Linked DNA regions of Homo sapiens. The protein of the gene in region 2 interacts with the protein of the main gene of each other region in a pairwise test. Each region holds a gene or a part of one and is shown on either strand. Other genes may lie near its edges.

The links. Proteins that work in one complex are often made in the same cells at the same time.
Region 1: the proteins of APBB2 (region 2) and MEOX1 interact in binary tests that used the Homo sapiens proteins (3 or more experiments, as listed by UniProt).

What each region holds. Positions count from the first base shown.
Region 1 is NC_000017.11:43,651,851-43,655,502, reverse strand, and holds part of MEOX1 (homeobox protein MOX-1), read left to right. Parts: intron 1-3,652. UniProt on the Homo sapiens protein: Mesodermal transcription factor that plays a key role in somitogenesis and is specifically required for sclerotome development. Required for maintenance of the sclerotome polarity and formation of the cranio-cervical joints.
Region 2 is NC_000004.12:41,008,453-41,012,104, reverse strand, and holds part of APBB2 (amyloid beta precursor protein binding family B member 2), read left to right. Parts: intron 1-3,652. UniProt on the Homo sapiens protein: Plays a role in the maintenance of lens transparency, and may also play a role in muscle cell strength. Involved in hippocampal neurite branching and neuromuscular junction formation, as a result plays a role in spatial memory functioning.

The DNA.
Region 1 (3,652 bases), on a different chromosome or scaffold from region 2:
ATACCAAATTTCTTTCTTCTTTTTTTTTTTTTTGAGACGGAGTCTCACTCTGTTGCCAGGCTGGAGTGCAGTGGCGCGATCTCGGCTCACTGCAACCTCCGCCTCCCGTATTCAAGTGATTCTCCTGCCTCAGCCTCCCAAGTAGCTGGGACTACAGGCACACGCCACCACGCCCAGCTAATTTTTGTATTTTTAATAGAGACGGGGTTTCACCATGTTGGCCAGGATAGTCTCAATTTCTTGACCTTGTGATCTGCCTGCCTCAGCCTCCCAAAGTGCTGGGACTACAGGCGTGAGCCACTGTGCCCGGCCACCAAATTTCTTTATCCATTCATCTGTTGATGAACATGTAGGTTGCTTCCACCTCTTGGCAGTTGTGAATAATGCTGCAATGAACATGAGTGTGCAAATACCTCCTGGAGAGTGTATTTTCTTTTTCTTTTTCTTTTTTGAGACGGAGTCTCACTCTGTCACCCAGGCTAGAGTGCAGTGGCGCGATCTCAGCTCACTGCAAGCTCCGCCTCCCGGGTTCATGCCATTCTCCTACCTCAGCCTCCCGAGTAGCTGGGACTACAGGCGCCCACCACCACGTCTGGCTAATTTTTTGTATTTTTAGTAGAGACGGGGTTTCACTGTGTTAGCCAGGATGGTCTCAATCTCCTGACCTCGTGATCCACTGGCCTCAGCCTCCCAAAGCACTGGGATTACAGGTGTGAGTCACTGCACCCGGCTGGAGAGTGTATTTTCAATTCTTTTGAGTGTATACCTAGAAGGGAAATTGCTATATTATGTAGTAATTATATTTTTAATTTTCCAAAAAAATTATTTATTATTAGAATAAAATATAGAGACAGGGGTCTCGCTATGTTGGCCAGATTGGTCTTGAACTCTTGGCCTCAAACAATCCTCCTGCCTCGGCCTTCCAAAGTGCTAGGATTACAGGTGTGAACCACTACACCTGACCATATTTTTAATTTTTCCTTTTTCTTTTTTTTTGAGACAAGAGTCTTGCTGTTGCTCTGGCTAGAGCACAATGGCGTGATCACGGCTCACTGCAATCTCTGCCTCCCAGGTTCAAGTGATTCTCTTGCCTCAGTCTCCCAAGTAGCTGGGATTACAGGCGTGTGCCACCACACCTGGCTAATTTTTGCATTTTTAGTAGACAGGGGTTTTACCATGTTGGCCAGGCTGGTCTCGAACTCCTGACCTCAGGTGATCCGCCCGCCTTGGCCTCCCAAAGTGCTGGGATTACAGGCATGAGCCCCTAATCTCCCCTTCTTATAAGCATATCAGGCAGATTGGATTGGGACCCACCCTAACAGCCTCATTTTAACTTAATCCCTTCTTTAAAGGCCCTATGTCCAAATACAGACACACTCTAAGGTACTGGGGTTAGGGCTTCAACATAGGAATTGGGGAGGGAAGCACAATTCTGCCCTTATAGGGACTGTACAGGACTGTACGGGGACAGGAACAAGGGACAAGGTTCAAACTGTGGCACAGACCCTTCAGTTGAAAACCCCTTTAGTGAAAGCAGCACCCAGATGTGTGCCTGACCCCAGAGCTTTCCTAGCTCAGGGTCCTGTCGGCTGGTAGAGCTTTTCCACTGAGACAGGAAGTTGTTTCTAGCCACAAGCAGATCCCTGATTTCCTATCTTACACCAACAAGTACAGACATAAAAAGTGGAGGCAGTTGGCCGGGTGCGGTGGCTCACGCCTGTAATCCCAGCACTTTGGGAGGCCGAGGTGGGCGGATCATGAGCTCAAGAAATCAAAACCATCCTGGCCAAAATGGTGAAATCCCATTTCTACTAAAAATACAAAAATTAGCTGGGCGTGGTGGCATGCGCCTACAGTCCCAGCTACTCAGGAGGCTGAGGCAGGAGAATCGCTTGAACCTGGGAAGTGGAGGTTGCAGTGAGCTGGATCACACCATTGCACTCCAGCCTGGGTGACAGAGCCAGACTCTGTCTCAAAAAAAAAAAAAAAAAGTGGAGGCAGTTTTAGGAGTGAATCTCTAAAGAAGGGAGCTGTTTGACAGAGGAAAGGAGAAAAGAGGCATGGGCTGGATGCGGTGGCTCACGCCTGTAATCCCAGCTATTTGGGAGGCCAAGGTGGGTGGATCACTTGAGGTCAGGAGTTTGAGACCAGCCTGACCAACATGATGAAACCCTGTCTCTACTAAAAATACAAAAATTAGCTGGGCGTGTTGGCTCACACCTGTAGTCCCAGCTAATCAGGAGGCTGAGGCAGGAAAATCGCTTGAACCAGGGAGGTAGAGGTTGCTGTGAGCCAAGATCGTGCCACTGCACTCCAGCTGGGGAGACAGAGTGAGATTCCGTCTCAAAAAAAAAAAAAAAAGGCAATGGTAGGCTGGGCACGGTGGCTCACACCTGTAATCCCAGCACTTTGGGAGGCTGAGGCTGGTGAATCACGATGTCAGAAGATCGAGACCATCCTGGCTAACACGGTGAAATGCCATCTCTACTAAAAATATAAAAAAATTAGCCAAGCGTGGTGGCAGGCGCCAGTAGTCCCAGCTACTTGGGAGGCTGAGGCAGGAAAATGGCGTGAACCTGGGAGGCACAGCTTGCAGTGAGCCGAGATCACACCACTGCACTCCAGCCTGGGCGACAGAGTGAGACTCCGTCTCAAAAAAAAAAAAAAAAAAAAAAAAGCAATAGTAGAGATGAGAATGAAATAAATGGACAACCCCAATAAGTGTCACCTGGGTCGCCAGAGTGATGCCAAGTCCCATACAAGTGACCTCATGCCCATGCTCACCTTCTTGCTGGGCCACGGTACAGTAATAGGAGGAAGGGTGGTCAGAGACTAAGGTCAAGCGAATTAACAAGGTAGCCCTGGTTCAGGTCCCTGATCCACAACTTCCTGGCTGTGTGGACGTGGGTGAGTCCTAACCCTCCCTGAGTCTCTTCTGAGAAATGAGGGTAACAGTACCTACTTCATAAGGTGGGTAGCTGTGAGACTAAATGATATCAGAGATGTAGAGTCCACAGCCAACACTTGGTAACCCCTGGCTCCAGTTTTCCCAAACCCACATATGAGCACCCCTCTCTCTTTAAAGTCCTCCCCTGATGCTGGCTGGCTGCATCAGGTTTCCCACGTTCAAAAACAGGCCAAAGTGTCCTGAGCTCTGCTGAAGTCTTTGCCCCCTGCTGTCAGCCGGGCCTGCCTGACTCTGACGATGCTACTGGCTTAGGGTTGTGGCAGTGCTGGGTGGGGTGTGGTTTGAGGGGTGCACCGCTGCAGCAGCTCCTCTTGTCCCGAGTCCATGTCCAGAACCCCTAGTGAGGAAGAAGTTTTATGGTCCAGAGTGGCCAGCGTGGGAGGGGAGACAGCAACTCCACACTCAGCCAGTATCCCTCTGGGCATCCCCGGCCTCCTGATTAGAGCTCCTGACCTCCTCTTCTGACAAGCAAAGAAAGCTCAGAGCCCAAAGCAGGACCCAGGCCTCGGCCACCATCTGAACTCAGAGGCTCCAGCACAAATCCCACGCCTGGGCCTGCTCAGGCCCCTGATCAGGTATAGTCGGAAACTCTGGAGAAAGTCCGTTTCTGCTGAGGCAGCAGGATCCTGACCAACATCGAAGAGGGAAAGATCCAATGAGCCCGTGAGCTGTAAGAAGGTCAGC
Region 2 (3,652 bases):
GGCAAGAGGATCACCTGAGCCCACAAGTTCAAGACCAGTAAGACCCCATCTCTCCTCCTCCAAAAAAATTAGTTGGGCATGGTGGACGGTGGCATGTGCCTGTAGTTCCAGCTACTCAGGAGGCTGAGGCAGGAGGATCACTTGACACCAGGAGTTCGAGGCTGCAGTTAACCATGATTATGCCATTGCCCTGTAGCCTGGGTGATCGAGCGAGACTCTGTTTCAAAAAACATAAATGTATTTTTAAATGAATAATTAAGCTGCCTCTTCCCTTCACCCCAGCCCCCTTTCCCAGTGATGACCATTACCTTATGTTTTTATTTCCTCTCAGAAAATGTTTGAGTCATAGATCCGCATATTAATAATAAATTTTAAGACCGGCATGATGGCTCACGCCTGTAATCCCAGCACTTTGGAAGGCCAAGGTGGAGAGATGGCCTGAGCTCAGGAATTTGAGACCAGCCTGGGCAACATGGTGAAACCCCTTCTCTACTAAAACATTAAAAATTAGCCAGGCATGGTGGCGGGTGGCTGTAGTCCCAGCTACCTGGGAGGCTGAGGCACAAGAATTGCTTGAACCTATGAGGCGGAAGTTGCAGTGAGCCAAGATCCCGCCACTGCACTCTAGCCTGGGTGACAGGCGAGACTCCATCTCAAAAAATAAAAATTAGGCCAGGCGCAGTGGATCACCAGGTCAGGAGTTCAAGGCCAGCCTGACCAATATCGTGAAACCCTGTCTCTACTAAAAGTACAAAAATTAGCTTGGTGTGGTGGTGCGTGCCTGTAGTCCCAGCTACTCGGGAGGCTGAGGCAGAAGAATTGCTTGAACCTGGGAGACAGAGGTTGCAGTGAACCGAGATTGTGCCACTGCACTCCAGCCTGGGCAACAGAGCGAGACTCCATCTCAAAAGAAATTTAAAAATAAAATTAAATTAAATTAAAATTAAAAAAAAAAACAATAATAATCAATTTTAAAATTTACCCAAATGTTGTGATGATGTTTTTAGAATCCCTATGTTTTAGAGATATATACTAATATAAAATACTAATCTATGTCATAGTATAACATATATAATACAGTATAACACATACTGATGGAAACAATATTGTGTATGGTATTTTCTCCAAAATAATTGGGATTAGAAGGATAAAAAAAGAAACAAAATTGCCCATAAGCTGCTGATTGTTAAAGCTGCATTATGGGTACGTGCGGGTTCATTATTCTATTCTCTAATTTTGTATGTTTAAAATTTGCCACAATAAATAGTTAAAACCAGGAAAAAGTTACTCCAATTAGATTGTTTTATGAATGCTTTGCTTTTTTTCACGTAAGAACGTATTTTGTAGATCAGTCCATTTTTCTACGTCAGTCTTTTTAAGTATTATGTATACTATTCCACTATATACAAGTTCCACGATTTATTTAGCAAGTTCCCTGCTGATGAGTATTTAGGTATTTCTGTCCATAGCCCCTTGGCTTATTGAGTGCTGGTGTCAGTAGGGGCCTGTGGAGAGGGCAAAGTTTGTGCACTCCAGTCTACCTACTGGGACTCTTGAAATGTACACGTTAACTCCCTCTTTCCAGGAAGACTTTCAGGGGCCCCTCTGCTGTGACACTTACCACTCATTTGCTCAGTGTCCTGACATTACTTGCTGTTGGGTTTCCACAGAACATCTTACAGTGCTTGGCCTGTGATGAGAACTGGATTAGAGTTTTTTTTACATGTTAAGAAGATATGCTTAGTTTTCTCTCTGAAAGTTGGTTTTGACAGGATGATGGTGGCCCTTGATAAGTTGCTGAGGATAGGTATTTCAAATCAAATATGCTCGAAAAAATGTATTAGCTGTGACCGAAAAGCAATGAGATTGTGTTTTTAAAAAATATACTAGAAGCCAAACCTATGCCAGCCTTCAAAATGTTCACTTGGGATCTCTGCACCTGCTTCAGCATGTTGCACTGTCTCAATATTAATAGTCATAATTTTGGGAGTCCTCTTTTGGAATTGCCTCAGAGTCTGCTGTGGATCCCCATGAAATGAAATCACTTTGCTTTAATCACACTTCAGGTTTCAGGTAATACATAGATTGGTGAATGAAATAAAATAAGCAGTTTTTTAGCATTGTATTTCTTTTGATTTCATCCTTCCTGTGAAACATACTGTTAGTGTTTAAAATAATCATGATCAGTCTAAATTAAACATTGTATGTTTCACTTGTAATGATAAAGTTAGTGTTTATTATGTATGTTTTATATAGTATATACATGTGTATGTGTATATATATAAAATAAACACAAATACCAACAGTTGAAAGAAAAGAGAAAACGAGAGCAAATATCTTGTGACATCTTAGTATGCCATGCCATAGTACATGTATAAAAAGGGTATAGTTGTCTGTTGACTTGCTGTGTGTTAAATACATAGTCATCACAGTGGTGTGTGTTTTATGACTAAATCATGATGCAATTATCTTTGGATCGTAGACTGCACTTTGGGGAGCCTAGAAAAATAGACTCATTTCTACCTCAGGGGCATCCTTTCCAAGTTAGAATGCTATTTATACAATAAAATGCAATGGCTAACCTAGAGACTGACTACTTTCTATTTTCCTTTACTACTGAATCGCCCCCTCCAGCTGTTTAGTAACTTCTTTTTGTACAATCAATCATGTATACAATATGTGGCTGCCCTTTTCCTCCTCTGTAGTCTGTCCTTTAAGAAAACAAGAGGCTATTTGAAAAAGGAAAAGCATCTGTGAAATGACTATTTTCATAGGAGTTTAGAAAAGTTAAAGAGTGCCTTGGCCCTGATTCTAAAAGAAAGGTTGTATCTTGCTACTGCAAAGTGAGAACTTTGAATCTAGTTAGGGTTTTTTTCAAAGATACAGTTCCCTCAGTGGCCCCAGGTAGTAAGCATGATGGCTCAGATAAATAAATACCTGTTGGTCACACTGTATATAGTCTCTCTGTTAATCACTTAGTGTTTCATGTTTGCTTTATGAAAACGTTGAAAAGATGCATCATTTTGAACCTTCCTGGGTACAGGTTTCAGTGGTACCCACATGTAATTTTATGTTTAGTTTGGGATTTAATAAAATTGAAGACACAGAGTATGAAACTAGATGGATCTTGTGTAGTAACTGTTTCAAAATCAGATTCATTGCTAAAGTGTACAAAAGCAGAATTATACACAGAGAAAACCAAGTCCCAAGTCTAGATGGGTGTGGCAATGCGCCTCATGATCCATTAACTTATCATTAAGAGCATAGGCTCTAGAGTGAGCTTCCTGAGTTCAAATCCCAGCTCTGCTATATCTAGGCAGTTCTCATAGCCTCTCATCTATAAAATGGGGATAAGAGTGTTTTGGCATAGACCTGCTGTGAAGATTAAGCGAGAGCATCTTCAAAGAGCTTTTAGGAGCAGTATCTGGCATATAGCAAGAGCTCAATGAATATTCATGATTATTATATTAGAGACAGTATCAGTACAGTGGTGTGTTATAAAAGTTTGCTTTTCTCTTAATTATGAATTACCTATATTTTGGACTCTGAGTTACGACTTTCTGGACCTTAAGAGCAAGGGTTGGTTCATCTTCATCTTTGTATTTTCAGTGCCTGGAATATGGCAAGTGAGCTTAATAAATAAATAATGACA